7 separate regions of the Homo sapiens genome follow, and regions 1, 2, 3, 5, 6 and 7 are each reported to be linked to region 4. Evidence: microRNA targets listed by miRTarBase, many of them from high-throughput screens and not tested one by one. Region 4 holds a microRNA gene; each other region holds the end of a gene's coding sequence.
The links. The annotated mature microRNA hsa-miR-4789-3p reads CACACAUAGCAGGUGUAUAUA and lies in region 4 at 1,426-1,446, shown strand. An mRNA with a match to its seed (bases 2 to 7 or 8) in the 3' UTR can be bound and repressed. Matches are read on the target gene's strand: a 7mer-m8 pairs with bases 2 to 8, a 7mer-A1 pairs with bases 2 to 7 and ends in A, and an 8mer does both.

Region 1: the mRNA of GEMIN6 is a reported target of hsa-miR-4789-3p. Seed matches in the 3' UTR shown: 7mer-m8 at 3,271-3,277 and 7mer-m8 at 2,772-2,778.
Region 2: the mRNA of SLC25A12 is a reported target of hsa-miR-4789-3p. Seed matches in the 3' UTR shown: 7mer-m8 at 3,076-3,082 and 7mer-m8 at 1,503-1,509.
Region 3: miRTarBase lists LONRF3 as a target of hsa-miR-4789-3p. The part of its 3' UTR that is shown has no 7-base or 8-base seed match.
Region 5: miRTarBase lists SEL1L3 as a target of hsa-miR-4789-3p. Seed matches in the 3' UTR shown: 7mer-m8 at 1,445-1,451.
Region 6: the mRNA of RSF1 is a reported target of hsa-miR-4789-3p. Seed matches in the 3' UTR shown: 7mer-A1 at 1,753-1,759 and 7mer-m8 at 511-517.
Region 7: miRTarBase lists HDGFL3 as a target of hsa-miR-4789-3p. Seed matches in the 3' UTR shown: 7mer-A1 at 1,089-1,095, 8mer at 1,446-1,453, 7mer-A1 at 1,668-1,674, 8mer at 2,445-2,452 and 7mer-m8 at 3,918-3,924.

Annotation. Positions count from the first base shown.
Region 1 is chr2:38,781,263-38,785,262 of GRCh38, reverse strand. It overlaps GEMIN6 (gem nuclear organelle associated protein 6), which reads right to left. Exons shown (of 3, transcript NM_024775.10): 3 at 261-3,746. The coding sequence ends at 3,371. Among named protein-coding and RNA genes, the nearest start is that of GEMIN6, 5.1 kb to the right of the region's middle.
Region 2 is chr2:171,781,988-171,786,085 of GRCh38, forward strand. SLC25A12 (solute carrier family 25 member 12) reads right to left here. Exons shown (of 18, transcript NM_003705.5): 18 at 1,418-3,488. The coding sequence ends at 3,287. Among named protein-coding and RNA genes, the nearest start is that of DYNC1I2, 97 kb to the left of the region's middle.
Region 3 is chrX:119,017,178-119,021,275 of GRCh38, reverse strand. LONRF3 (LON peptidase N-terminal domain and ring finger 3) reads right to left here. Exons shown (of 11, transcript NM_001031855.3): 11 at 2,921-3,741. The coding sequence ends at 3,586. Among named protein-coding and RNA genes, the nearest start is that of LONRF3, 45 kb to the right of the region's middle.
Region 4 is chr3:175,368,165-175,372,262 of GRCh38, forward strand. MIR4789 (microRNA 4789) reads left to right here and starts at 1,376; the gene lies at 1,376-1,457. The region is part of intron 5 of NAALADL2 (N-acetylated alpha-linked acidic dipeptidase like 2); the gene reads left to right.
Region 5 is chr4:25,744,953-25,749,050 of GRCh38, reverse strand. It overlaps SEL1L3 (SEL1L family member 3), which reads left to right. Exons shown (of 24, transcript NM_015187.5): 24 at 487-1,618. The coding sequence ends at 626. Among named protein-coding and RNA genes, the nearest start is that of SLC34A2, 91 kb to the right of the region's middle.
Region 6 is chr11:77,663,245-77,667,342 of GRCh38, forward strand. RSF1 (remodeling and spacing factor 1) reads right to left here. Exons shown (of 16, transcript NM_016578.4): 16 at 1-4,098. The coding sequence ends at 3,673. Among named protein-coding and RNA genes, the nearest start is that of CLNS1A, 28 kb to the left of the region's middle.
Region 7 is chr15:83,135,850-83,139,849 of GRCh38, reverse strand. HDGFL3 (HDGF like 3) reads left to right here. Exons shown (of 6, transcript NM_016073.4): 6 at 575-4,000. The coding sequence ends at 580. It overlaps TM6SF1 (transmembrane 6 superfamily member 1), which reads right to left. Exons shown (of 10, transcript NM_023003.5): 10 at 2,442-3,369. The coding sequence ends at 3,178. Among named protein-coding and RNA genes, the nearest start is that of TM6SF1, 30 kb to the right of the region's middle.

The DNA.
Region 1 (4,000 bases), not on the chromosome of region 4:
CAGCCTGGGTGACAGAGCAAGACCTTGACTCTTATAAAAAAAAAAAAAAAGGATTGTGAAATTTTCATCAATTCTCAGCAAATTAAAACAATTGATTGAATGTTTTAAATGTCACTTAAAAAAAACTAAGTGCATGGAAAAATCAACTTCAGTATCTTTAGAAGAAAAAAGTGGACTTAGGAAATCAGATGAAAAGGGGATGGTGAGAAATCAGTGCAAACAGTGGAAACTTTGCTTCCAAGGAGACAAAAAATACACAGTGGAAGTCGAAACAGACTTTTATTTTAAAAAGTATTCTTGATAATGTGTTCAAAGACTGCCCTGGCTACAGCCCAGGACTGGCAGTAAATACAACCAGCTTTGGGGAGGAATCTCCCTCTGGGGAATGTGGAATCACAGATGCTGACAGCCCAAAGGAGGCACTGGAAACAGGTGAGTGAAACTCCTGGGGAGAATCTTAGCTGAGGAATTAGCTAGGGAAACTCCCTAAGCATGAAGGTTTCTATGGCAGATCAGGATCACTTACCCTTTCAAGCACTCAGGTTTTGTTTGCAGGCAAATTGTTTACACAATCAGAGGACTCAGTTGCCAGGAAACAGTCAATGTCCCCAGCTCATTAGTCTGATGGCAAATAAATCTACCAATATCAAGGCACCGGGCCTGGTCCCTGAGCCAAGATCAAGTCCAATTGATGCTGTGGATAATTTCCTACGTGGCTTTTTTTTTTTTTTTGAGACAGAGTCTCGTTCTGCTGCCCAAGCTGGAATGCGTACAATCTCGGCTCACTGCAACCTCCACCTCCCAGATTCAAGCGAGTGCCTCAGCCTCCTGAGTAGCTGAGATTATAGGCGCTCACCACCACACCCAGCTATTTTTTTTTTTTTTAGTAGAGACAGGGTTTCACCATGTTGCCCAGGTTGGTCACAAATCCTGGCCTCAAGTGATCGGCCCGCCTAGGCCTCCCAAAGTGCTGGGATTACAGGCGTGAGCCACCGCGCCCAGCTGGCTTCTTCCTTTTCAAAGGCCTCCCTCATCTTGTCAGTCATTTCCTTGCTGACTTCAGTCTGTTCATATTCCCCTTCTATTTGCTTTCTGAAGACATCCAGGGTTTGAACAGGAGAGTCTTAGCCACTAGGAGAAAGGTGATGTGTGCTAAATTTTGCTTTCAGGATCATGGAACTTTGAAGCCGTGAGGGAGGAACTTTCTGTTCCCCTGAAGTTTCTGAACTGCTTCTGCAAGTGTGGTCTGGGAACGGTAACATCATTATCTGGGAGTCTGTTGGAAATGCAAATTCCTGGGTCCCAACTAGAACTACTGAATCAGAATCTGTTGGGAGGAGGGTCCAGCAATCTGTTTTGAAAAGCCCTGCAGCTGATTCTGATGCTTGCCAACATGCAGGAAGCACTGGACTATACCATCTTGTTATTAGACAACTATGCAGGAAAATAGCTGTGTTATCAGACTGTATTCAAAGGCCCTGAAACCTAAATATTTGCTGATTCTGATGCTTGCTAAAGTGCAAGAAGCACTGGGCTATACCATCTTGTTATTAGACAACTATGCAGGAAAATAGCTATGTTATCAGGGCCTGTATTCAAAGGCCCTGAAGCTTAAATATTTTAAAATATTTCTTACAGCTGGACATGGCAGCTCACACCTATATTCCCAGCACTTTGGGAGGCCAAGGTGGAAGGATCACTTGAACCCAGGAGTTGAAGACAAGCCTGGGCAACATATCAAGACCCTCTTTTAAAAAAAAAAAAAAAAAAAAAAAGCCAGGCACGGAGGCTCTCATGCCTATAATCCCAGCACTTTGGGAGGCCACGGCAGGCAGATCATGAGGTCAGGAGTTCAAGACCAGCCTGGTCAACATGGTGAAACCCTGTCTCTACTAAAAATACAAACATTAGCTGGGCATGGTGCTATGTGCCTGGTAATCCCAGCTACTGAGGGGGCTGAGGCAGGAGAATGGCTTGAACTCAGGAGGCAGAGGTTGCAGTGAGCCGAGATTGTGCCACTGCACTCCAGCCTGAGTGACAGAGCAAGACTCTGTCTCAAAAACAAACAAACAAACAAAAAACCCACAAAAAACAGCCGGGCACGGTGGCTCACACCTGTAATCCCAGAACTTTGGGAGGCCGAGGCGGGCGGATCACCTGAGGTCGGGAGTTTGAGACCAGCCTGACCAACATGGAAAAACCCCGTCTCTACTAAAAAAATACAAAATTAGTGGGGCGTGATGGTGCATGCCTGTAATACCAGCTACTCAGGAGGCTGAGGCAGGAGAATTGCTTGAACCTGGGAGGCAGAGGTTGTGGTAAGCCGAGATTGCACTATTACACTCCAGCCTGGGGAACAAGAGTGAAACTCCATCTCAAAAACCAAAACAAAAACTCCACAAAAAAACCAGAAAACTGTAATTCAATAGGTAATGCTGTGTTCCAATAATTTTTTTTTTTTTTTTTGAGACGGAGTCTCGCTCTGTCACCCAGGCTAGAGTGCAGTGGCGCGATCTCGGCTCACTGCAAGCTCTGCCTCCCGGGTTCATGCCATTCTCCTGCCTCAGCCTCCTGAGTAGCTGGGACTACAGGCACCTGCCACCACGCCCGGCTAATTTTTTTTGTATTTTTAGTAGAGAAGGGGTTTCACCGTGTTAGCCAGGATGGTCTCGATCTCCTGACCTCATGATCCACCTGCCTCGGCCTCCCAAAGTGCTGGGATTACAGGCGTGAGCCACCGCGCCCCACCAAGACACATCTTTTAAAAACAGACACATACAGTTAGTGAAGAGACTTAACAAGACCATGATCTTACCATAATATTTTATATTGAATCTAACATGTTACATTTTTTTCCAAATGCTTTTCTTGCCTAACAAAAATGGGGGTGTAACCCCATCACAAGAAAAGACCCATACAGGTGAAACCCCATCTCTACTAAAATACAAAAAATTAGCTGGGAGTGGTGGCGTGCACCTGTAGTCCCAGCTACTCGAGAGGCTGAGGCAGGGGAATCGGTTGAACCTGGGAGGCGGAGGTTGCACTGAGCTGAGATTGCGCCACTGCACTCAAACCTGGCAACAGAGCGAGACTCCATCTCAAAAAAAAAAGAAAAAAAGAAAAAAGAAGACCCATACAATTCTGATGTCCCTGTGCTAATTTTATGCATGGGATGCTATACTTGCCCTAGTTCATTAATTTCCCAAGGAAATTAGCACTTATAACCCACTCCTCTGATTTTACCAAAACAACAAAGAATTATACACACACACACATACACACACACAGTCATGTACATTTACATTTAAAACATTTTATGAGGGATAAAATATAGTCTTTTTCTATCAGTATGTTCACACTTCCTGGCCTCTCATTGGGAAGCTGTAAGATGTCCTTCAATAAGATCCTGAACACGCGACAGAATAATCTCATTAGAGCTGCTGCAATTTTCTGGACCATATGGTGGGTCTATAGTCAGGACCCCAGCCACACAGAGAGTCCTTGGAGCGTCTCCCTGTTCAGTGATGGGGATGTGGTTCTTCTCAAGCCATTTCTTTAGGCTGTTCTTTCTCTCTTCCAGATCCTCTGGGCTGTATGCTTTGCAGTCTCCAGACGTGAACAAATGCATCAGCTTCTCCCTCACTCTATGGTCCCCTTCATTCATAGTTTCAACAGTCTGCACAGCATGTCCCATAATTCCGGTCACAGACATGCTGCCATCTTCAAGGAAGTTCACAAGGACAATACTTTGGAGGAAAAGTAAGTTTAGAGGCATCATCAACCCAAGTAGGTCACTAAAATAATAGATGACACTCTACTCTGTTTGAAATTAATCCTGTCACCAATGAATGCTTCCATTTATTCAACAAACATTCACTAAGGATCCTAAATAGGTAAACTTTTTGCCCAGCCTACAGCCAATCATTGTGGGATACAGTTAAAGGATTAAACAAGTTATGAATGCCTTAAATGTGTATTAGAAAAGAAGGCAGGGTAGCCA
Region 2 (4,098 bases), not on the chromosome of region 4:
AACATAACCATAAAAAAAACCGAGCTAACCATAAAGGAAAACTATTATTTGAAGATATTAAAATTAAAATGTTACTATATTTATAAACATTGTGAAAAGACAAACCACAAAGTGGGAAAAGATTCTGCAACACAACTCATAAAGGAGTAGTAGCCAGAATATATAAAGAACCACCTGCAAATTCATGAGAAAAATGGGAGAACTTTAACACACTTCATTCACCAAAGATGAAATCCAAATGGTCAAAAAATATATGAAATGTGATCAGCCTCATGAACACCTTTCATATTTTTTTTCCATATAAGGAAAATGGTCATTTAAACTACAATATGATACCATTATACATCTACCAGACTGGGGGGCTGGGGAAAAGCCAATACACCCTGGGAAGAATGTAAATCAGTATGAGAATCTTCGGGAAACAGTTGGCATGATCTAGGTTCCACTCTTATGTATATGTCCTTTTAAAGATGCAAACTCCAGAAGACATGTTCAAAATATCCATAGAAGCACTGTTTGAAATATCCCCAAAGTGGAAAAAATCCAAATTGTCCATCAAGAGTAAAATGAAAAAAGTATATGTAATGTAATACATTCATACAATGGAATAAACACACTATGGCTACATACAATGATAAGGATGAATCTCATAATGCTTAGCAAAAGAAACCAGTCTCAAAAGTGTACAGTATAATTTGATTCATATAAATTCCAAAAATAGAAACTAAATATGGTCTTTAGAGACATATACATGGGTGGTAAAACTATGAAGAAAAGCAAAGCAAAGAGTAGGGATGATGTTAAAGTGGACAGAGGGTTGTGTTAGGGAGGGACATATATGGAGCTTTTGAGGTACTGGAGATGTTCTATTTCTTGACCCGGTGGTCATATGGTATGCACATTATGATATGTTAAAAAATATATATGTATGTGTGTACATATCTGTTGTGGACATGCATACATATGTTTCATGTACTTTGTCCATATTCCACAATAAGAAAATATACAAATGACCAGTAAATATGAAAAGACATTCAATCTCACTAGTAATTAGAAAAATAAAATAACCATGATCAGCTATCATGATTTGCTGAAAATGTAAAAGACTGATAATATCCCTCTTTGCTGAGGTTGCAAAGAAATAGGCATTCTCATATGCTGTCAAAGGAAAGTAAATTAATAACTCTTTTTGAAGAACAATGTGGCAATATGTATAAAAACATAAAGCTTGTCTTAAAAGTTTTCAATTGCAATTCCAAATATCTATCCTAATGAAATTCACATGCACTAAAGATATGTGTACAAAGATGTCTGCCATTCACTACAGCATTGTTTGCAGTAGTGAAAAAAATGAATAAATATCAATAAGGGAAGATTTATGAAAAGTATTATAACCCATACAATGAAATACTATGCAGCCATTAAAAATAAAACTTTATAAACTGACATGGAAAGATATCCAAAACACATTAAGTGAACAAAAGCAAGACACAGAATAACACACACATAACATAATCCTGTTTCTAAAATATAAATATGTACATATATTTCTATAGAGTTATGAAAAACAGACTACATATTCATGCTGTAACCTGTTAGCAGTGATTACCTCTGGGCCAGGAAGTGGTGGAGGTAGAAGGAGGGTAAGCGGGACACTTTCCCATCTCACTCTAGATACATACATAGGATTCTTTTGTAATCACATATCCATGGACTACTTATATATTTCTAACAAGTGGTAGTAGCAAAACAACTGTATTATTATTTGTTCCACTCCCATGAGACCAATCTAATACATTTGAAAATAACTTGCTTTCAAAGCTAATTCTTTTGTTCCTGGAGGGCCTCCAGGGAGCCTACAGTTGCAGTCACAGGGCTGTCAGCCATCAATCGAGGAGCACTGTGCAGGATACTAAGTAACTTGGTCTGTCTCCAGGCTCGCCTCTTGAAAATATTTGCATACATTCTCATATCCCAGCTTACTGGCAGTAGCAATAATGTCTTCCCAGAGCACTTTGGTAAGGTAAATAAATTCTGATACTGCACATCAAATCACATCCATATCAAAGTGTAGATGTGGCTGTCAAGATCTATGTTTAGATCCAAATTAGTAATCACGCCCTTGATGAGTGACTTTTAGAACAGTTTGCATTTGGATTCCAAAGTAAGAACCTAGACCCCACTAAATCACCATATAGAGCTTTTCTTCTCTTTCTTCTTCCCTCCCTTCACTCTGCGCTAGCCCTTTCTAAAACTAATTTTTCTGTTTTCTATAAAGGTGGAAGAAAGGGCGAACCCGATCATGAGTTATTTGCAATCAGTAGTCAATCAGAACAAAAAGTATTATCAGTATATTTACAAAGAAAAATCCAACTACATGTATACATTTTGGTGTGCATTTTATTTTTGACTGGAATCATATCCATATGAAGGGAAATTGTGAAAGTATCCTTTACTCTTTTGAAAGCTTGGCCTTTGCCTTACTGTGTCAAAGGAAAGCAAAACTAAGCCAGTAATGATGGAGATGTCCCTGTTTCCATATGCACACTGACAGGCGAGGAGCTGCCTAGGAAATGCTTTTTGATTGATGAACAGAGGAGGGTCTACACACATTAAATACAAATGGAAACACATCAGCACACACAAGTCATTAGCCTGGTCCTCTGGCATCCACTGGCATGCATCTTTCCAAAGTATCACTTATTCAGTGGTAGCAGCACTATGTCTCGTTATGCCTTTTATCAGCAAATACCTTTTTATTCCAGAATGGAAAACAAACTAGGAATTAAATACATCCAATATTGATGCTTTATTTCCATAAGTCACCAATAAGAGAATGAATTTAATTTTAATACATTTATTTTTGTGTGATTCTTAATAAAACACTTTCAAAACATTCTGTACATTTCAAGCCACTCAGAACCGCATTACATTTCTACAAATGTGATTTGTTGGGATGAGGTGCCAAGATGTCTCTGTACAAAGATGTACAATATGTACAATCACTGTAAGTGCAAGCTGTGCAAAGCAGAGTCTAGAACACTAATTCATGCCAAGGCTTACAAAAACATTTCAACACATAAGACTAAAGCTTGAAACAGCGTTGTGGTTTTTTCCCTGGGCAAATGATTATTTTATAAACAAGTATATGTATATGTCATACAGAAAGAAGAGTTTGACTCCTCAGCTCAGTCAGTACCATGCAGCTGACTGGATACATTACAGGGCTGCTCTCCTAGGCCTCTTTCTTCAAGGCGCCATTTTGCCACACTCAACAGTTGTCTCATCACTGAGTGGCTGCCACTGCTGCCTTTGGCTGAACCACAGCAACACTAGGAGACTTAAATTTCGGGAGATAAAGGCCAAATTTGTTTTCGATGCCTGCAAACGTGGCTGTGGCGAGTCTGTATCCACCGATGTGATCAGGGTTGGCAGGAGGAAGGTCTGCAATGCGTGACTTAGGTGTTGGTTCTGAACCAGCGGGTTTGCTGTTGACAGAAAAAAAGCCAATGGTTAGCATGCTCAAGGTGGATGAGCGCAGCTTACAGCTGGACATTTTCGGTCTGACCCATGTGCCACAAAGAAGAATGTTTCTCTCAACCATTTCCATGGCATCTGTGCTGCATGACTAGAAACCACAGTCATGATTTATAGCTGCTTTGACAGCAACTTATCTACATATTTGATTTACAAGAGAAATGGCCTTATTTCCAATGCTTGCATACATATATAAACAAATCCATAGGAAAAAAGTCAGAAGAAAAGACACTCAAATATGAAGACTCTCTGGGTAGTAAGATTATGGATGATTTTTTTCTTTTTTCTTCTTGTAAAGATGGGGTCTTGCTATGTTGCCAAAGCTGGTTTCGAACTTCTGGTCTAAGGAATCCTTCTGCCTTGGCCTCCCAGAGCACTGGGAGGTGTGAGCCACCACACCCAGGCTGGTTTTTTTCTTTTATGCTTTATGGTTTTCCAAATTTTCTGCACTTAGCACATATGAAAGTAATTTTTAAAGTATATATTTTTCTTTTGACATAACTTTAGAAGTTAACTTTTTATGTAGTAGACTCATAAAGATTATCAATTAAATTATTTAAA
Region 3 (4,098 bases), not on the chromosome of region 4:
CCTTATGTCTTTCTTCTGTATACCCTTCATTCCCAAGCTGTGCAGCAAAACCAATTTCCCAGTGTAAAAATGTTCAAGACCAATTGATTACCTCGTTAAGGTACATCCCAAAGAAAGCCAAAGCTTAGCCTTGCATCCTGCCTTGCAACTAGACAAAATATTTAACATAGTGGAGGCTCAGTTTTCTCATTCATAATATGGGGATAATAACTGCTCTCGCAGGGTTGGTATGAGAAATAAATGATGTAATGAGCTCAGGTATGTGAGATCACTTGGCTCAGTACCTGGTACATGGGGATCTCAGTACATTTTTTGTTGAATCTGTTACTTTGGGCAACATAAAGAAATACTATCAACTAAGAACAGAAGTCACAGATTGTAAACTCTCATCATCTGGGATGGGTAAGGTTCTCAATACATTTTGGAGAACAGGGAGTGAAAAGTTGGTTATTCTAATGGAGCTAGAACTTAAGGCTTCCATTCTATCAGAAATCCTAGGCTGGGTGCGGTGGCTCACACCCACGCCCGTAATCCCAGCACTTTGGGAGGCCCAGGCAGATGGATCACCTGAGGTCAGGAGTTCGAGACTAGCTTGACCAACATGGTGAAACCCCATCTCTACTAAAACTACAAAAATTAGCCAGGCGTGGTGGTGCGTGCCTGTAATCCCAGCTACTTGGGGGGCTGAGACAAGGGAATCACTTGAACCTGGGAGGCGGAGGTTGCAGTGAACTGAGATCGAGCCACTGCACTCCAGCCTGGGTGACAGAGTGAGACTCAGACTCGCACACACACACACACACACAAAAGAAAGAAAGGAAAGGAAAGGAAAGGAAAAAGAAAGGAAGGAAGGAAGGGAGGGAAAGAGAGAGAGAGGGAGGGAGGGAGGGAACAAAAGAAAAAGAAAGGAAGGAAGGAAGGAAGAAAGAAATCCTAGACCTACATAGGGCACTACCTTCTAGCCCTTATTGAAGCAGGAAAAAAATTTCTGGTATAGGATTGATCCCTATCTCTGACCCTCATTTGTTCTCCAGTTATTTCACTTTCACACACATTTAATTCCCAAAAGAATTATCTGTAAATCATCAAATTATGGGTCCAAAAATCAGTGGTATGTATTCCCCCAACTAAGTTTAAAGGGGTTTCAAGTGGATATTGTGTGTAAAGGCAGTGTTTTATACAAATGTAGGCCCTTGATGATATTCTATAACTATGACTAATCTAATAGTAGCTATTATTTCTTGAGTGCATTCTAGGTGTGAGACACTGTGCTAATTGATTTACACATTATCTCATTTAATTTTCGTAACAACCCTATATGCAGAACTTATCACTATCATTTCATAGATTAGAAAACTGAGGGTTGGCAAAAGTTAAATCAATTGCCAAAAATAATATATCTAATAAGTAGAGAAGCTTAGGGCCTTTTTCTTTGTTGCATTTACACTAGATAACCAGAAACTATTAGGATTGTGTTATGACCACATGGTCTGGGAACCAGGTGGGAGGGGGAGTCTTTTCTGCTCCCTGAGCTTTGTGGAGTTTGCTTGCGCAGAAATAATGCCTATACTTCCGCCTATTTCTGTTCTTCACCTGCCCAGACTAGCTCCAAACATCAAATCTGATAAACACAACACTCTGGCAACATAATGTCCATTAAGTGAGTGCAGAAAAGACCATCTGGTTTCTGCTTACATGCATCTTTTTTATGTTGTCTGGATCATCTCATTCTCCCTTTCCTGTTTCTAGCTACAGGTGGTGATGGGAGAAGTAAGAATTACACTCTCACCTTAACAGAGTGATGGGCTGTGAATGAATGATGCAAAAATCATTCACTGTCCAAAATCACATGGTATAATTTGCATGAAGGTACTAATGGCACAATTCACTTCCTCCCTGCTCTAATCGTTTCACTCTGCCATTATAACACTCCCATACTTGTGGTACTTTACAGGCTGTCCTGCCACTGAAGGACTCAAACTAGCACTAAGCAAGCTAAATCAGGGCTTACTCTTACTCCTCACCCTATATTCTCCCCATACATTGAAATATTTCACCCATGCAACTAGAAGCAAAGGCAGTACTTAGGTAAAATAATAGATTATCTGGTTCCCTTTTTTTTTTTTTTTTTTTTTTTTTGAGACGCAGGTTTGCTCGTTGCCCAGGCTGGAGTGCAGTGGTGCAATCTCGGCTCACTGCAACCTCCATCTCCCAGGTTCATGTGATTCTCCTGCCTCAGCCTCCCAAGTAGCTGGGATTACAGGCATACACCACCAAGCCTGGCTAATTTTGTATCCATTTTTAGTAGAGACAGGGTTTCATCATGTTAGTTAGGCTGCTCTCGAACTCCTGACCTCAAGTGATCCGCCTGCCTCGGCCTCCCAAAGTGCTGGGATTACAGGCGTGAGCCACCGTGCCCGGCCATCTGGTTCCTTTAAAAAGATTTTTATAGGGTTCTACTCTATTTGTCTTATTTACATTTTAATAATAAAAAGTCCTTATCAAGTGTTTCTGTCCAGGTCTTGATCCTCAGAACCCCGGGGAGAGGTGGGTTATGGAGGCTAGTTGGGCATGACTGTGATGTGCTAAACTGAACACCATTTCCTCTGAAGAGTTAATTATGATCCTGCCCAAAATCCGATTCCTAACTGCACTGGGGAAAAATTAGATACACGTACAATTAGATTGCTGAAGTAAATGCCTATAATAAAAATAATTCTTTCAGCTTTGTTCTGTATTACACACAGAAAATGAATTATTTTACTTTACCTTGGCATATACCATAATCTAGGCCAAATCCCTTAAGTATTTTATATTGTTTAGTTCAAACTGAAAAAAAAAAGTGGACTCTGAAGACAGATGATCTTAGCATCATTCTGAACTTCTTTTAAGCATCCATTTGGATAGATACGGAAATGGTCTAAGAACTAGTGTCATTGTAGTAAAAAAAAGATAAAAGCAAAAACTGCACACTTCTAGTATTGTTATTTCCCCCTAGGTACATGGTAAACCACATCAATAAATAAAGCAATGGACTTTTCAGCAATGTACGCTTAAATAGTTACAAACATACATGTAGAAAAAAGGATACAGTAGTGCAAAAAATAAATTATTAAAACAGAAAGAAGTATGAACATTATTTTACACAATGCTCTATAAAACCTGAACCATTTGGAATGAGACCTCAAGTCAGTGAAATTATACAGCAACATTATTAGTATCTTTGTTTTCACATTTCAACCACACAGTCATTGATCTATGAAAGAAAGAATATTAAAGCAAAACCACTTTAAACTTTTGGAAATTTTAATGTTAAAATCAAATTATGTTTTTCTGGGCTCTTAAACACCTCTGCTGTTTATGTAGTTATGCAGCATGTCAAGAAGCATCTTAAGACAGAAAGTTTCAAATAGGTCACATTCTTTTGGTCTTTCTACTCAATTTCTCTCTGTGATCAACAGCAGGCTGATGCCTCTGTTTGACACCCCCTTCTGTTAAGATATTATTGCAATTAGATATATTTACAAGAAGACTCCCCCCGACGGCAGTGGGGAAGGTGGGAGCTCCTCTTCGGCAATCCACTCACTAGTTTTGGTTTCGGGATATGAAGGCCAGGACTCGTCGAATACCATTCAGTCTGTCCTTTAAGGACCTCATTGCTAGGAAGGGGAGCTGAGCTCGGCTTTCCAAGGGAAGAACTGCTAACATCCACCAGCACCAGGCTGGGCCATTCGGGTTCATCTGCAACAGAGAAACACAATGGAGTCATCCTATTCCCATCCAAGAACATCAGTCTGCAGAGTTCCAAATGCTCAAGGTAAAGACCCCAGGTAGAACAACTCCATGTGGCAGATTGCTAATTGACCCTATATCTATTTTCCCCCTTATTTTAGCAGGGCATATAGCCACCCAGAAAAAAGACTGCATTTCTCAGCTTCCCTTGCAGCTAGGTGAGGCCATGAGACAAAGTTCTGGCTAATGAGATGTAAAGGGAAGTGATATGTGTAACCTCTTGGTCATGCTCTGGGAAAGAAGCATATGCCCTCTGCCTTCCTCTTTCTCTCCCTTTCCCCTAGCTAGAACATGGACGTGGTGAGG
Region 4 (4,098 bases):
TTTGCGTATATTGAACCAGCCTTGCATCCCAGGGATGAAGCCCACTTGATCATGGTGGATAAGCTTTTTGATGTGCTGCTGGATTCGGGTTGCCAGTATTTTATTGAGGATTTTTGCATCAATGTTCATCAAGGATATTGGTCTAAAATTCTCTTTTTTGGTTGTGTCTCTGCCTGGCTTTGGTATCAGGATGATGCTGGCCTCATAAAATGAGTTAGGGAGGTTTCCCTCTTTTTCTATTGATTGGAATAGTTTCAGAAGGAATGGTACCAGTTCCTCCTTGTACCTCTGGTAGAATTCGGCTGTGAATCCATCTGGTCCGAAAATAGTTACATTTTACAAACGAATCTCTAACACATTTTGGTATCTTTTTTTATACTTTGAAAGGACTGTAGCAGGTGTGTGTGAGTGTGTGTGTGTGTGTGTGTGTGTTTATAGCCAGTATGTATATATGTAGCAAATACGTTCATGTGCCATTTAATAATGGAGATGCTTTCTGAGAAATGCATCATTAGGTGACTTCATTGTTGAGAGAACATCATAGAGTGCACATAACACAAACACATTGTGTAGCCTCCTAAACAACTAGGTTATGTCGTATAGCTTATTACTTCTAAGCTACAAACCTGCATAGCATGTTATTGTACTGAACACTGTAGGCAATTACAATGCAGTGGTATTTGTATATCTAAACATATCTAAACACAGAAAAGGTACAGCGAAATATGATATAAAAGATTAAAAAAAATTGCCACCCCTGTATAGGGCACTTTTCATGGAACTTGTGGGAGTAGAAGTTGCTCTGGGTGGATCTGTGAATGAGCAGTGAGCAAATGTGAAGGCCTAAGACGTTACTATGCATTACTGTAGGCTTTATAAACACTGTACACTTAGGTTACACTAAATTTGTTTTAAAAATTAAGTAATTGCACTAATGTCACAATGAGAACAATGCCACTAGAGTTTTTCAGCTCCACTATAATCTATGGAACCACCCTCATGTATGTGATTTGTTCTTGAGCAAAATGTCATCATGCAGCACCTGACTGTATATATATGTAGCAAGTATGTGTGTGCCTGTGTGCGCGTGTGTATATATAAATGTTACATTTACATACACCTGATATGTGCATGTGTAATTATATATGTAACAAGTATGTGTGTGCCTGTGTGCGTGTGTGTACATATACATGTTACATTTACATACACCTGATATGTGCATGTATACATATATAGGTAACAAGTATGTGTGTGCCTGTGTGCGTGTGTGTACATATACATGTTACATTTACATACACCTGATATGTGCATGTATACATATATAGGTAACAAGTATGTGTGTGCCTGTGTGCGTGTGTGTGTATGTGTATATATACATGCTACGTATGTATACACCTGATATGTGTATGTGTAAATACATATCCACACACATAGCAGGTGTATATATAGGTAGCCTGTGTGTGTGTGAGTGCATGTGTGTGTATGTGTAGCAGGGGTTTTGTGTTAGAACCAAGAGCTTGGAACTGGTACAATGAAAATATTTTGCCTGAAAGATATGCTTAGTAAAAGTCCCAAGTTTCACACATTTTTGAGGCTCAAAGTGAAGAACTCAAAGTGAATTATTAGGTAATCATATCTACTTCTTCCTAAACCCTTCATCTGATTGTGTGCTAAAATTTAATACTAACTGATCTTTCCATCTCCATAAAATTCTTTGAGATAACAAAATCCTACATTCCGGTTTCTGAAGGATGGTATTCTGCAAATGTGAAAGTTTCCCTTAACCTCCAAAAAATAATTGGGTTAATCCAGCTACCACAAGTGTGAAATTGAGAAGCTGCTTGCTAAGATTGAATTTAATATTGTCACATGTCATCTGAGAGCTGCTTGTCTGATCATGTTGCCACTGGACAAAGTAAGCCTTACTACAAAGGATAAAAGAATGATTATTTCAATATCCAGTCATAGTTCATCATCAAACTCTGAGTAAAATGGAGAAAAAAAGACGTTTTATCTTATATGACTCTATGCATTTCTCTGGGAAGTCATTTATCTGGTTGCTATCCAGGAGAGCAAAGATAATGGGAAAAATCTTCCACTATTCTCAACTATAATTTTAAATATCAAATTTTAATAAAATAGGTTTTGGTTATTTCTTTTAAAAGCCCTCAATATAAGAAAATGAAATGTTAGAAACTTATTTTATAAAATATATTTGTGAACCATAAAACCCCATATAAAATGGAAATTATTATCACCATTAACTACTGATGCTTCTAATCTTATTCTGTAATGGTTAAAAAATGACTAGAATTTAGAGTTACTGCCAATATATGGGGGGGGGAGGGATTTTATAAAAATAGCTTTATTCATTTGCATGTTAAGCAAGAGTGTGATTACTGATGGCCGTAAGAGTCACTTGCTGCTTTAAGCTCTGCTCTGCTGCTGACTCTACATGTGTAGCTTTGAGAGGTCCTTTAGCCCCTCCAGCTTTCCACATAGGCAGGATGTGGCTATTGTACTTGATGATATGCCAAACATGCTTCTGATTCCAACATTCGATGGTTCTGTGATATTTCTACCTTATTACAAAAGACATTCACTTTAAAAGTATAAACACCGTAGTAACTTTTTTTCTTTCATTGTTTTCAATAAAAGGGTAATGGAAGTAAACTGACAAGTTTAGGAGGCTTTCAGAGCATAAAGGAGAAAGGCTGGCAGCTCTTGAGAACCTCTTTGCTTTCAGCTGAGAGCAAGTAGAGAATGCTTGCTCTCTGGCCCTGAATGTCATAACATTATGTTCAGAATCATTGAAATGTCTGACAACACTGTTGATTAAAAATGAGAATCATTAGGCCATGTCTGCCGTTATAGGATGAAGGGTAGTTTGAACAGTATGGAAAAAAACTATCCCAAAAGGATGATTTGTCTTAGACAATATTACCAAAATTTCAAATTATACTATGTATAGTAATTTGCAGTAATTCACTTTTTTTTTATATTTAGCTTCATCTTAAAAGTTCTCCTTCATTGGTAATGCTTTGAAAAATGCTGGATTTAGAATTATGAAGAGACTATCAACTAATATTATGGATGATATTATTATTATTATTATTTTTTGAGACGGAGTACTCGCTCTTTCGCCCAGGCCGGACTGCAGTGGCGCTATCTCGGCTCACTGCAAGCTCCGCCCCCCGGGTTCTCGCCGTTCTCCTGCCTCAGCCTCCTGAGTAGCTGGGATTACAGGCGCCCGCCACCGCGCCCGGCTAATTTTTTGGATTTTTAGTAGAGATGGGGTTTCACCGTGTTAGTCAAGATATGGATAATATTATTTAGAAACCATTCTGTGTGCTACAAAAGTCCTTTGAGAATGATATGAGCTGGGCACGACGGCTCATGCTTGTAATCCCAGCTCTTTGGGAGGCCAAGGCGGGTGGATCACCTGAGGTCAGGAGATCAAGAGTAGCCTGGCCAAGATGGCGAAATCCCGTCTCTACTAAAAATACAAAAATTAGCTGGGTGTGGTGCAGGGGCCTGTAATCCCAGCTACTCAGGAGGCTGAAGCAGGAGAATCACTTGAACCCAGGAGGCGGAGGTTGCAGTAAGCCAAGATCATGCCACTGCCCTCCAGCCTGGACAACTCCATCTATTAAAAAAAAAAAAAGATAACCACTAAAATGGCTATTATTCATCTTTCAAAATCTGTAATACCTGGAAGTTCTGCATGACCTTTAGGAAAACTACATCCACAAAGCGTTCCTTCTAGTTTCCTAATAAGTTTTAGAAGAAATATTGCCATTCTGAGCTAAACTAGTTCTACTTCCTTAGGGCAAATTCCTACCATAACATGAAATAGACAAATATAATTACTCTAAAAAAAGTCCAGCCATAGCATCTTAGAGTTTAAAGGAATAACCCTTAGGAGTTCACAAAATTTTTTTTCCACTGCTTCCTAGGCAGACCTCATTTAGTGTAGCTGGCGTGTTGCCCTGCAGACTTTACTGAACTGCTAGTACAGGAGTCGCTATGTTTTTAGCTAGCCCATTCAGTTTTTGTAAAGCTCCATCATTACATTTTTCATCATACTGACCTAATACC
Region 5 (4,098 bases), not on the chromosome of region 4:
CCTCATCACTGGGGCTCTAATCACTAGATCACCTGCCAGAGTAGTGGCTTTAATGACCTTAGAAAGGGTACATCATTCTACAACATCCTGCCCCTCCCCATCACTCTCCTATTCTTTCAGAAGAGTGTTGGAATCCACGACCTCTTCTGTAGGTACTGGAAGGGGCCCGAAGAATTCCCGCATATATCCAGAAAAGCCAGAAGTTTGGGGACCCATTCTTAAACTTCCTAGAATGTCCCCTTAGGAATGAGCATCGGCACTTGGAGGTGAAACTCTTGAAGGGTTTTTATTTAGAAATCAGATTGTCAGCATGTGGTGGCATCTTCTTAAACTTAGATAACGGGTCCAGAGTTGCCTGGCTAGTTAGTGTCAGGTTCATTAGACTAGATGCATCTCTCCTGGCTTGCCAGAGTCTCTAGGTGTGGTTGTACATTCTGAATGCACTGTTTTGAGTATTCAGCACCTGTTGTGCATGTGTCTCTGCAGCAAGCGATCCCCCTCCAAGACCATCCCAGGCCTCCCCAGACACTGCCACGTCCACTGCAAGTCCAGCTGTGACTCCAGCTGCAGATGCCTCTGACCAAGACCAGCCCACAGTAACTAATAACCCGGAGCCACGTGGGTGAACTGTGCACTCCAGTTCTCTCCAGATGAGAGAGAATCTTTTCAACAGCTGGTATTGGGAAGCTGGGGCCAGGGCATGATCCTGATAAACACCTTAAATGTCTTGTCAACTGGATGCAAATTTTGCAATTGGTGTCATTTTTTTTAAAGTCAAATTACAAGGAAGTACCCAGATCAGGCAGTGGTAATACCAAAGGTCATCAAACACATACAAGGAACATCTTGATCATAGGGCATGTGGGGAAGTTTACTGGGCCATCACAGACTTTTGTTCTAGTGATTGTATGTATTAGGAGTCATAGCATGCCCTACGGCAGATCTGGATTCTTATACACTAAGATGTGTCTTAAGAATCACAGTGCGTGCTTCATCCCTTTATTGAAGAACAGAAAATTATGACTACTCTACAAGGTGGATAATATTTTGGTACCTGTGCTTGCCACAGCCCTGTTCCTCAAAGCTGAATTGATAGATTTCTCTTTGACTTCCAAGACCTAGCAGTTATAAGGCACCTTGAAATAAATTGTTTGTGCCTGGAAATGCAGGGAGGGCAATAGCTTTGTAAATTGGTTTACATTTTTCTCCTTGAATTTTTCTAGGGTCCTAGTGCTTCCGAATCATTTAATGGCATTGTCGGATATCTTTTACATTTCAATTGCAATCCATGAAATTACATTTAGAAGATTCTTAGTACTTAACTGTAGTCTTCTCCATGAATTACACGTTAGAATAGACTGGCAGCAACGGAATATGCAGCAAGTAAGCCTCTAGCTTATAGTTTCATCCCTACCCCTCATGCCTGCGTGAGTCTGTACAGGGATATGTGTGTGTGTGTGTGTGTGTGTGTGTTAGAGAGGAAGAGGAAGAGCAGAATGTCTGTATACTACATGCTGCTAAGGTAGTGAATAAATCAGTAATGCAATATTGTGGGTCCAAACTACTCTTTGCACTACTTTATTTACAGTAGTAAATAAAATTATTTTTATACAATTGACTACCAGAAAGTGGTTTTTTTTCCCCTTTTTTATAATTACTGTCACCATATAAAGTCTAAAGGTCCATATATTCTCCTTGAGGAGGGAAAAAAGAAAAGTCCTCCTGGTGAGAGGGCTTATTTTTCATAACCCATTAATATTTGTGGATAGGAAGGTGGCAGGAGGCTTCTCTCCAGGAATCCTGAGCTCAGGTCTGGCCTTAGAATGTTCGCACAGTATCAGACATTGTTTCAGGGCTTTGTGCTGCTCTGAGCCTGGGCTCTATGTTCATTCCAGGCTAAGCTTGTAGTTCATCCTCCTCCTTCTCCTATGAGTGTTGCTCTTGTTTTAGCAAATGTTGTCCCTCCTATTTGCAAAAAAGCCAGAGATTGAAGGCTGACAGTCCTGGATTCAAATTCTGGTCCTGTAACTGACAAGCTCAGTAATCTTAGGTGAGTGATTAACCTTCTCTAAGTCTCAGATTCCCATACTATAAAATGGGGCGATGAAAACTACCTCTTGGGATTTTTATGAGGCTTACACGAGATAATATATGTAAAGCCTACAGGATAGAGTCTTGTATTAGGTCATTCTTGCATTGCTATAACGAAATACTTGAGACAGGGTAATTTATAAAGAAAAGAGGTTTTATTGGCTCAGAGTCCTGTAGGCTGTACAGGAAACAAGGCGCTGACAGCTATTTGACTTCTGGGAAGGTCTCAGGAAACTTTCAATCATGGCAGAAGGCGAAGGAGAAGCAGACATGTCTTACGTGGCTAGAGCAGGAGCAAGAGAGACTGAGGCAGGTGCCACAGACTTCTATTTATTTTATTTTTGTTTCTCTCTATAGATAGAGATCTATATCTATCTATATATAGAAAGAATATATATATTTAAATATATACATTTGAATATATATATTTAAATATATATATATATATATATTTAGATAATATTGCTCTGTCGCCCAGGCTGGAGTGCAGTGGCACGATCTCGGCTCACTGCAACCTCCCCCTCCTAGGTTCTGGTGCCTCAGCCTCCGAGTAGCAGGGACTACAAGCATGTGCCACCATGCTTAGCTAATTTTTTGTATTTCTAGTAGAAACAGTGTTTTGCCATGTTGCCCAGGCTGGTCTTGAATTCCTGAGCTCGGGCAATCCGCCTGCCTCAGCCTCCCAAAGTGCTGGGATTATAGGCGTGAGTCACCGCGCCTGGCCTATTATATGCTTTTTTATTTTTATTTTTTATATTTTTTGCCACACACTTTTAAACAACCTGCTCTCATGGGAGCTCACTATCATGAGGACAGCATCAACAGGACGGTGCTAAACCATTCATGAGAAATCCATCCCCATTATCCAATCACCTCCTGCCAAGGCCCACCTCCAACATGGGGGATTACATTTCAACACTGAGATTTGAGCAAAGCAAATATCCAAACTATATCAGGTCCTAAATATGGTAGGTCATTATTTTTATAACATAAGAAAGAGCAGTCTGAGGGGCCAGAGAGTGACTCTGCTCTGCTGAGATCCTCTCTCCATGGCAAACACACCCATTTCCAATCTGTTGGGAACATGAGCTGCTGACTGCTCACAGCCACACGCCACACTGGGAATTGCCCTAAGCTGCTGGGATCTGCCCAAGGGCATACCCTTGCAAGAGCAGCCCGTGGCCAGTGGCTCCTTGATGTAGGCAGAGTTTCTCAATCTCAGCACTATGGACATTTGAGCTGGATGGTTCTTTGTTGTGGGGCAGGGTTGTCTTGTGTATTGTAGATGCTAAACAGCATCTCTGGCCTCTAATGAATGCTGCAGTGGGCACTCATCACCCCTGCTTCCCAGTGTGACAGCCAAACACCTCCTTGGGAGCAAAATCACACTCCCTTCACCTTGAGAATGACTGATGTAGGAAAACAAAGGTCCCTTGCCTCAATTTGGAACAGTGCTGAACGGCAGGGCATCCCAGCTCCAAAACTCTACGTTGGTTGCAACCTCACTGAATGCAGCTTCTCACTCTGCTCAATTCTGCCTTCCTCACTTTCTTTTTTTTTTTTTTGAGACTGAGTCTCGCTCTGTCACCCAAACTGGAGGACAGTGGCATGATCTTGGCTCACTGCATCCTCTGCCTCCCAGGCTCAAGAGATTTTCCAGCCTCAGCCTCCCAAGTAGCTGGGATTACAGGCATGTGCCACCATGCCCACCTAATTTTTGTATTTTTCATAAAGGTGGGTTTTCGCCATGTTGGCTAAGCTGGGCTTGAACTCCTGACCTCAAGTGATCCATCCACCACAGCCTCCCAAAGTGCTGGGATTACAGGTTTGAGCCACCACGCCTGGCCTTTCCTCGTGTTCTTATAGGATTTTCCAACACTGATCCCCAGAAATCTTCACACCCAACTCTGTACCTCAATTTCTTAAAAAACAAACAAACAAACAAAAACCCTAATGTATTAGTTTGCTGGGGCTGCCATAACCAAGTACCAAATACTGGGTAGCTTG
Region 6 (4,098 bases), not on the chromosome of region 4:
CTAAAAAAGCATTCCTTGTGACAAAGGACACCCCACCAGTCCCACTTAAAAACAGCTAACATTTCCTCATCATTTTGACTATTAAACAAGTAAATGTCCATGTTTTTCTTAATATGTGTACTTTGCTCAAATGTATATTATAGGATGGGTTTCATCAACTAAAAAGTAAAAACTGGGTACGTGTAACACCCTTTTAAAATTAATTTGTTTAAAAATTATTTTTCAAAAGCTTCATTAGCATTTAAAGTTTTTGGTTCTTGGGCAGGTCACTTTTATATATAGATTGCCAGTAGACATGAATTTATTCTAAATGAAACTACCCTTTATCCTCTGAATCTGTAACCTTGACCAATTGAAAAAAGGATGTCAAGGAAATATAACTTGATGTACATTCTTGAAAATATCTCTGCCATCATTTTGCAGTAATGTGCCAATGATGGAAAATGTTTTACACTAATTTCATCAGCACTGATGTACAAAACCAAAACGTTTTCAGTCTGCGTCCTTTTCACACATATTTCAGTTCAAAGCTTCTGCTGTGTGAAAAGCTGACTAGTTTTCAAACCTTTTCAGAAATTGCAAACTAAATATACTGAATATTAATCTACATCTCCCTTTAATACATTAGCTACAGTCTAGAGTTTGACACTGGGAGTCCAACTTGTATTTCAACAAGGGGGGTTTAAATTATTAAAGGGCTCTATTATGTAGCAGCTATTTTGAGTCTAAATCCATGGTTAGTGCTCTAAAAAAGATCCAAGACTGTCTAAACTCTACATCAATTACTGCTTTCCTATACTTTCTGCAGTTCGTAGTGACTGTATTGTCTTTGTATACAGAACATTTCGTTTTCTAAAATTTTTTAACTTCTTCAGAATACCTTCAGAGTGTATTTCAGTGATCATAAACTCTTTGAGGGACTGAATCTGAACTCCAAGCAGCAAAACCGTTTTTGCACTGCTCAAAATTTAATAATCAATAATCTATCTGCCTAATAATGTTTTATCAACCGCTTGGATTACATTCTTGGTAGATGACCTATAGTTAATTGATTTAATCAAAATATAAGGTGAGAAGGGGTACATTCACTATCAAGTTGACGAACACTTATTCAAGTTTGGTAAATATCAGGCAGCACAGCACAAGTGGTCTCCAAACCTAAATGGAATACTCAGTCTTTGAGATGGTAAGAATTACCTTAGGCTTTCTATAGTAGAAGAGTAAAAATAACTCCTTATTTCACATTAGGCATCCTGTTAAAATTATCTACCCATTTAATACTACTTCTGATCACTTGGCTTAACTGAGGAATAGAATAGGTGGAAGAAGGAGCTGGTGTGTCCAGAGGTAGAGACAGGGCACATGGGAGAGTTTCCACACAATAGTGGCTTTACCCAGCTGCAGGACTAAAACGGTAGTGAGACTGGGTGGCAGGAAAGGGCACTTGTATATTCAAACCACTTACCTTGCACTAGTAGAAATCTTTATATTGCTTGCCTGTTTTAGATGGTTTAAAAGGTTAATTCTTAGCTGACTTGCAAATAAATAAAACAAACCTAGCTGGAAAGGAGACTGTTAAGTAAATGTAGCTCCTTACACAGCCCTGCTTTACTGTCTGTGAATGTAAGCCCTTCCCTCCCTTCCAGTGGAACACTGTCTCAAAATAAAAATCACAACTTACTTGGAACCACATGCTATTGGTGCATCCTATTTTTAGGTTGCTTTCATTATTTTATTTTTTATACAGATACATACACATTGCTAGAATCAAAGCAAAAATATTAATGGGCAGGTACTACAGAACTAAAGTGAAACAAAACAAAACAACGAACAACTGAAAAACAATAGCTATAAACTTTCAAGGCCAAAAGATAAGATTTAAGGGCAATACCTGTTGAAGAAGGAAAAGGAGTATAAAGTTCCTAGAGAGGTATTTATAATGCAAATCTAATGCCAGCTTTTTAGTAATAAAAAAGAGAAGTGCTTTACTATACACTGACTAGCACATAATACTTAATTTGGAAAGAAAAATTAATGACGTTCCTTGGGCCAGCAGCAGATATGGTGTGTCCATTGCCGGCAACAGACACAACACCGGAACAGAAAAACCCAAATCCCAGGGCTAAAGTATTCACAGAAGTAATGGTTGAAGGTTTCAGGATTTAACAGGCTAGGTTTAATCACAAGTGCTACACTCTGTACAATGTTATGGCTCTGCCTGAAATTTTACAGCTATAACAGAAACTAAATAAGACAAAGTTCATATTTTAGTGTCAATTACATGTTAGGTATTTAGTTAGTTACAAACCCTTTTTTCTTGAAACAAAGGGCTTTTCTTTAAAGTGTTGAGATGTTTGAAATGGATGTCATGCCTATTAATTACATCGGCAGTTCTCATTCAACTCTATGTTGGTTGTATGACTATTAATGAATTTTAATAGAAGTCTAATGGCCAAAGGCCAAAACTACATTCAAACTCTGCTAATATATCCAGGCAGATAGGAAATTCCAACACACACACACACGCACACGCACACACACAAACACACACACACGCTAAAACTCAAACTAAAAACCTCCCAAAGGAACTGCTTTGTTTGTAGACTTCAATTTGAAGTAGATACTAAGGGCAAGAATAGACCAGTTAAAATTCACCTGAAAATCTCTTCCCAGTCTTCAAATGTGCTAAAATATCACTGTCAGCTTAGCATCTCTTCATGTATGTTATATATAGATGTATTTTTTTCAAAATGATATTTCAGATATTTAAACATCAAGTGGCCAGAAGACAAGAGTTATACTATTGGCAAAGTTTACAGTCCACCCAGGCCTTAAGAAAGACCACATTCATTTCACTAATAACTCTCCATCAGACACAATATATTTGAGGCCACCTTATTACCACTGCATAAAGCTTATTTAAAAAAATTTGTTGCTAGCACAGTCTGGTTGGCAAAGCTTCATTATACATTTTACTGTACAAATGCTTTTCAGATGATTTTATTTTTTTTTAAACAAGAAACTCTGCTATAACAAAAATTTAGGTTAATTATGATGGTACTTTCACTGTCTCTTCTTTATTAAGTGTGGTTATCTCCAATAGTAAACAAGTTCATTTCACAAAGGCTGTTACTAAATGACTTATGTATGATGTTATCTACAATTCTCAAACTGTAACAGTACAGACTTGAACTTTTAAATTGTCTGTAAATCATCATCTATGCCATGAATGTTTAAATATAATATATATTTAATATGAAAAAGCTAAAGCACAAGTGCTTTCACCCACCCCTAAATTCTGTTTTGGGCCCTCACAGATTCGGAATGCATTTTCATCCACCCTTTTTCACAAAGTCAGGAGAGCTCAGGAAATATAAAGTCAAAAATATACAAATCTTTGTTGTTATTATAATAAGATTTTTTTCCATGAATGAAATTACCAAGGACCATGAACCTGGAAAAAGAAAATCAAAAGGAATTTACAGCAATTATTTATCTTCAAAGTTCAGAACTGGTCACTTCACAGAAAGACTTCAGGATTTGTTGAAATTTTTCTTCTAAAAGTCATTCTGTAGTGGAGTTTTCTAGGAAAAATTAAACAGCTTTTAATAACTGGCCCGCTGGTGTGAGAGCTACCGTGGAATAAATTAGCACAAAAATGGAAAAAAAGTCTTATAACTGTTCACTGTTACAGACATAATCAACAAGGTCAGTCACTCTCAAAAGCTCATCTTCCTCCTCTTCTGGTGCTCCTGCCTCCTGCCCACCACTTGTCCCATTGGAGGCTAGGCTTGCACTGGCTGTGCTGTTGTCCTTGGGGGTCTGAGACTTCTCAGTAGGCTTGCCAATCAAGTTCTCAATGGCTTTGCCAGGGCTCTGTCCATTGGTTGAAGGTAAGTCCACTAAGCTATAGTCCAATGGGCTCCCCACTTTGCCTACATTTTCAAAGTCCTCTTCCTCATCACTTTCTATCCGGTAGGGCTTCTTGGTGCTCTCTTGTTCTGAGGGCAGGACCCTAGGCTGGCTGTCACGGGCAGGCTGATTTGCATCTCCATGAGCATTGTCACAACTCTCCTCCTCATCCGTCTCAATCCGGTG
Region 7 (4,000 bases), not on the chromosome of region 4:
CCATCTAAATTTTAAAAGAAATCTAGGCTTCCTCTTATTCTTTATGTTTTTTTTAAAAGCAAGAAGTCAGAGACTTTGTACATCATGATTAACTTCTACATTTGTTTGAGCTATGTGTCACAAGTAATTAAGTTATAAATATTCTGAAGATTAATTGGTGCACACTCTAAGTGCTTTTTAAATTTTACACAGCTTACCTTTCTTTCTGAAGAATGTCCTCACAAAGATAGATTATATCAATTTCTCCACTGATGATGTATTCCAGCAATAAACATAGTCCTAGAATTGTAGAATGTGCACTGCTGCACTCTGTCCTAACAGACAGTAGACAAGGTTTATAATTTTTTTCTATGGGACACTAAAAATACCCTAGGATTTCCTTTAACTTTTTGCACTGACAGGTCTAAAGCAAAGCCACAGAAGCTGCTCTTGCTCAGTAAGTATTGTTAATGCTGCAGTGCATATTAAAATTTCAGAAAACCCAATTATGTACTATCTAGGTGTGGATAGCTCTCATTGTTAGTATCCTAAATCATCTAAAGGCTTGTTTTCTTTCTTTTTTTTTTTTTTACAGACCTAACTACCATAATGAATGCTGCATATTAAGAGAAACCACAAGAAGGTTATATGTTTGGTTGTCTAATATTCTTGGATTTGATATGAACCAACACATAGTCCTTGTTGTCATTGACAGAACCCCAGTTTGTATGTACATTATTCATATTCCTCTCTGTTGTGTTTCGGGGGGAAAAGACATTTTAGCCTTTTTTAAAAGTTACTGATTTAATTTCATGTTATTTGGTTGCATGAAGTTGCCCTTAACCACTAAGGATTATCAAGATTTTTGCGCAGACTTATACATGTCTAGGATCCTTTTATCAAGGCAGTTATGATCATCGTTTTCCTGCCTTGACCCCACCATCATCAAACACTCAGTTAAATATAAATTAACATTTTTTAGATGACCACTCAACATAATGCTTAAGAATGGAATTTCCTCTCTGTGACAGAACCCAGGAATTAATTCCTAAATACATAACGTTGGTATATTGAAGACGAAATTAAAATTGTCCTTCAGTTTTGAGGCCATGTGTAAAGTTTAACCATATTGTAAAATATCTATTCCGTATTAGAAATAGCTAGTTGACAGCTTATACTTCTCAAAATTCATATTGTTATGTACACAAACTAAGTTTCTATATGTGAAGTTAGTGAGTCTTTTTGTGTTACTCCAAAATAAAGGCAATGATTTATTTTTTTCCCAGTGCCAATACAATTTTGAGCTAAGCACTCAAGGTGGATACTTTACATTTTAAAGCTGGAATCAGCAACAGCCCTATGGGAAACCAGACAAAGCATTGACTTTTAAATGTAGACTTTTAAAATAAACTGTTTTCTTTTGGAACTACAATTAGAATAGTTAATATTCATCCTTAAACCATTATTATGTGTACATTATTGTTGCTATTGTGATAATAGAGAATTTTATTTATTTTTATGCCAGCTTATATTGTGAGAACACATTTAGTCAGTTTGGGTTTTATCAATCCTGTTAATGCTTGTCCTTGGAACATCTTTCGCGTATTCACGGTTTGTAGTTGAAAAGTTTACTGTAAAAAAATCAAAAACAAAAAAATGTATTGTTTTTACAGAATAAATTTATTGGAATGTGTACTGGGAGTAAGATTTGAGGTTGTAAGCAAACTAAGTTAGTGTAATTTGGCTTCATATATGTAACGTGAGGTATTAATGTAATTCATATATTAAAGCAAAAATTGTTCACAGCAAGCTGACAATAGAATCAAGTGCAGGTGAGGGTTTTTCTTTTTCTTTCTTTTTTTTTTTTTAAACACTCTCTGGGTTTTAGATTATTTGAAAACACTGTAGGGGATGATGGGGAGATGACTACATGATTTGCTTACACTTACATATTTACCAGCCCAGTGGACCCTAGATTTTGTAATTTGATATTATCCATGCATTGATTTGTATCCCATTTTCTTTTGGTTTTCTTGATGAGAGCTAATAAAAACATGAGAAAATGTGAGCAGACCTAAAAGCCTAGGGCCGTTAATAATGATGATGGTGATGATGGCAGCTAAGGGTATGAAAGCACCAGTCCATTTATCATTCCAGGGCACAGTGAGGAGGTGGCTGTTTGTATTTTTGGTGTGTTTCTTTCATTTAGTGAATACTGATTTTCTCTAGTATACTCAACATACAATCCCAAACATGAAAAGTTCATAAAAAGATAGTAGGGATGTCGATCTAATACTTCTTCCTTAAAAGGTCCTTTTTAATTTTGAATATTTGAATGTATTTTTTAATTAATGAAATTTAATTCATCAAAAGACCTCTTCATTGCTCACACTGAAACATAAGGGGAATGTAGATGGCATTTTGAATTGGAATATACAACTCACAAATTTTCTTTAAAAGCGTTTTATGTGTATATATGAAATGTTTCAAATTTAATAAGATTTGTCTTTATAAGAGGCCAAAAATAATTTTATTAAAAATATACACAGAAATACAATAGAAATATTTCCAGCCACCAATAAAACAAATGTTCATTAAGGATAGAGATAAAGTTACTGATCCCTATTTAGCTGTTTAAATTCACACAAAAAAATTTAGTAAAAGTAATTTTCTTGAAACAGCAGCAAATAATAAACTTTCCTTGGGAAAACATTTTTCAAACAACATTTAAAAATATTCTGATGATTTGCCTTTTATATTGAGTTTAATAATGAAGCATATTCATCTTATTTGCAAAAGTTACTCCTCCAGTCTGCATTCACTGTTTTGAATTTTTTAATATGCACAGGCCATATTCTCTTTTGAATAGTTTCATTTCATGCTCACTACTGTTGGCACTAAATTGTAATTTTTTACACTTATAATTATTTTATATGTCAAACAATATTGAGATGGATGATCAAGTTTATTCACAAATGATTTTGAATATATTTCTTTAAACAAACTGTTTCTCAAGAATTTCCATTTTCCTTCAAAAAAAATTTACACAATACCATATAGCTCACACATACAGTGCAGAGCAAGAATGTACATATTCTTAAGTACTCACGTATGAGAAGAGAGTGAAATGGGACAAAATATCAGTACCAGTATAACAAAAGTTAGTAATTTAGAAAGGAGGAACATGAAGTAATATTTTTATTCCACTTTTTCTTCTGCCTTTGTTTTTATGAAGAACTCTGGTTTGTAGATACAACGATAGGCCAAGAGCTGAGGAAGAACTCCATATGCTATGTTTAATGCTAAAAAAAGGATTTTTGCTTCTTCAGGGACTCTGTAGACATAAGCAGTTCTAGCATGAAGAGATGCACCAATGTGAGAAAACTGAGCCTGTTGCATTTAAAAAAAAAAAATTGAGTAAGCATGAAACGTGTTCAGTTGGATGCATGATGAGTTCTGAATGGTTCATTCAGGCTACGTTTCTGTGCCCTCAAAACCAGTCTCACCTGCAGGCAAAATACCTTCAAACAATCCAGAGTCTTTAATGTCAGAGTCTTTCATTAAATTTAGTCCTTGATTAAATTTAGGGCCATTCTTGATATGACTGTTCAAATAAAGTAGATATTATTTAGTGTAGTTTTATCATGCCAGTTGTGTTTTTTAACCATCAAGTGCCCCTTACCGAACATTAGTGGCTCAATCTAATAGAAAAATCTGAATAAAATCTCAAATTTTTTTCTGATTTGCGTTCTGGAGATCCTGCATACAGACTCAGTTGTGGTTCACAAATTGCGTTCCAATAAAAATGAAGAAAGCGCAGAGTTTTAAAAAACAAATATTTTTAGCATAAACTATTGAAAGGGAAGCACTGGGGGGACCTCAGCTTCATTTATCAGTCTTTCATCTACTCCTTGCAGCAAGAGCTCATACCCTTTCCCTATGTGTTTTTTGTTTATTCATTTATTCATGTATTTGTTTTTTCTGCAGCTTTTAAAATATTAAGGGTTGTTTGTAAGATAAG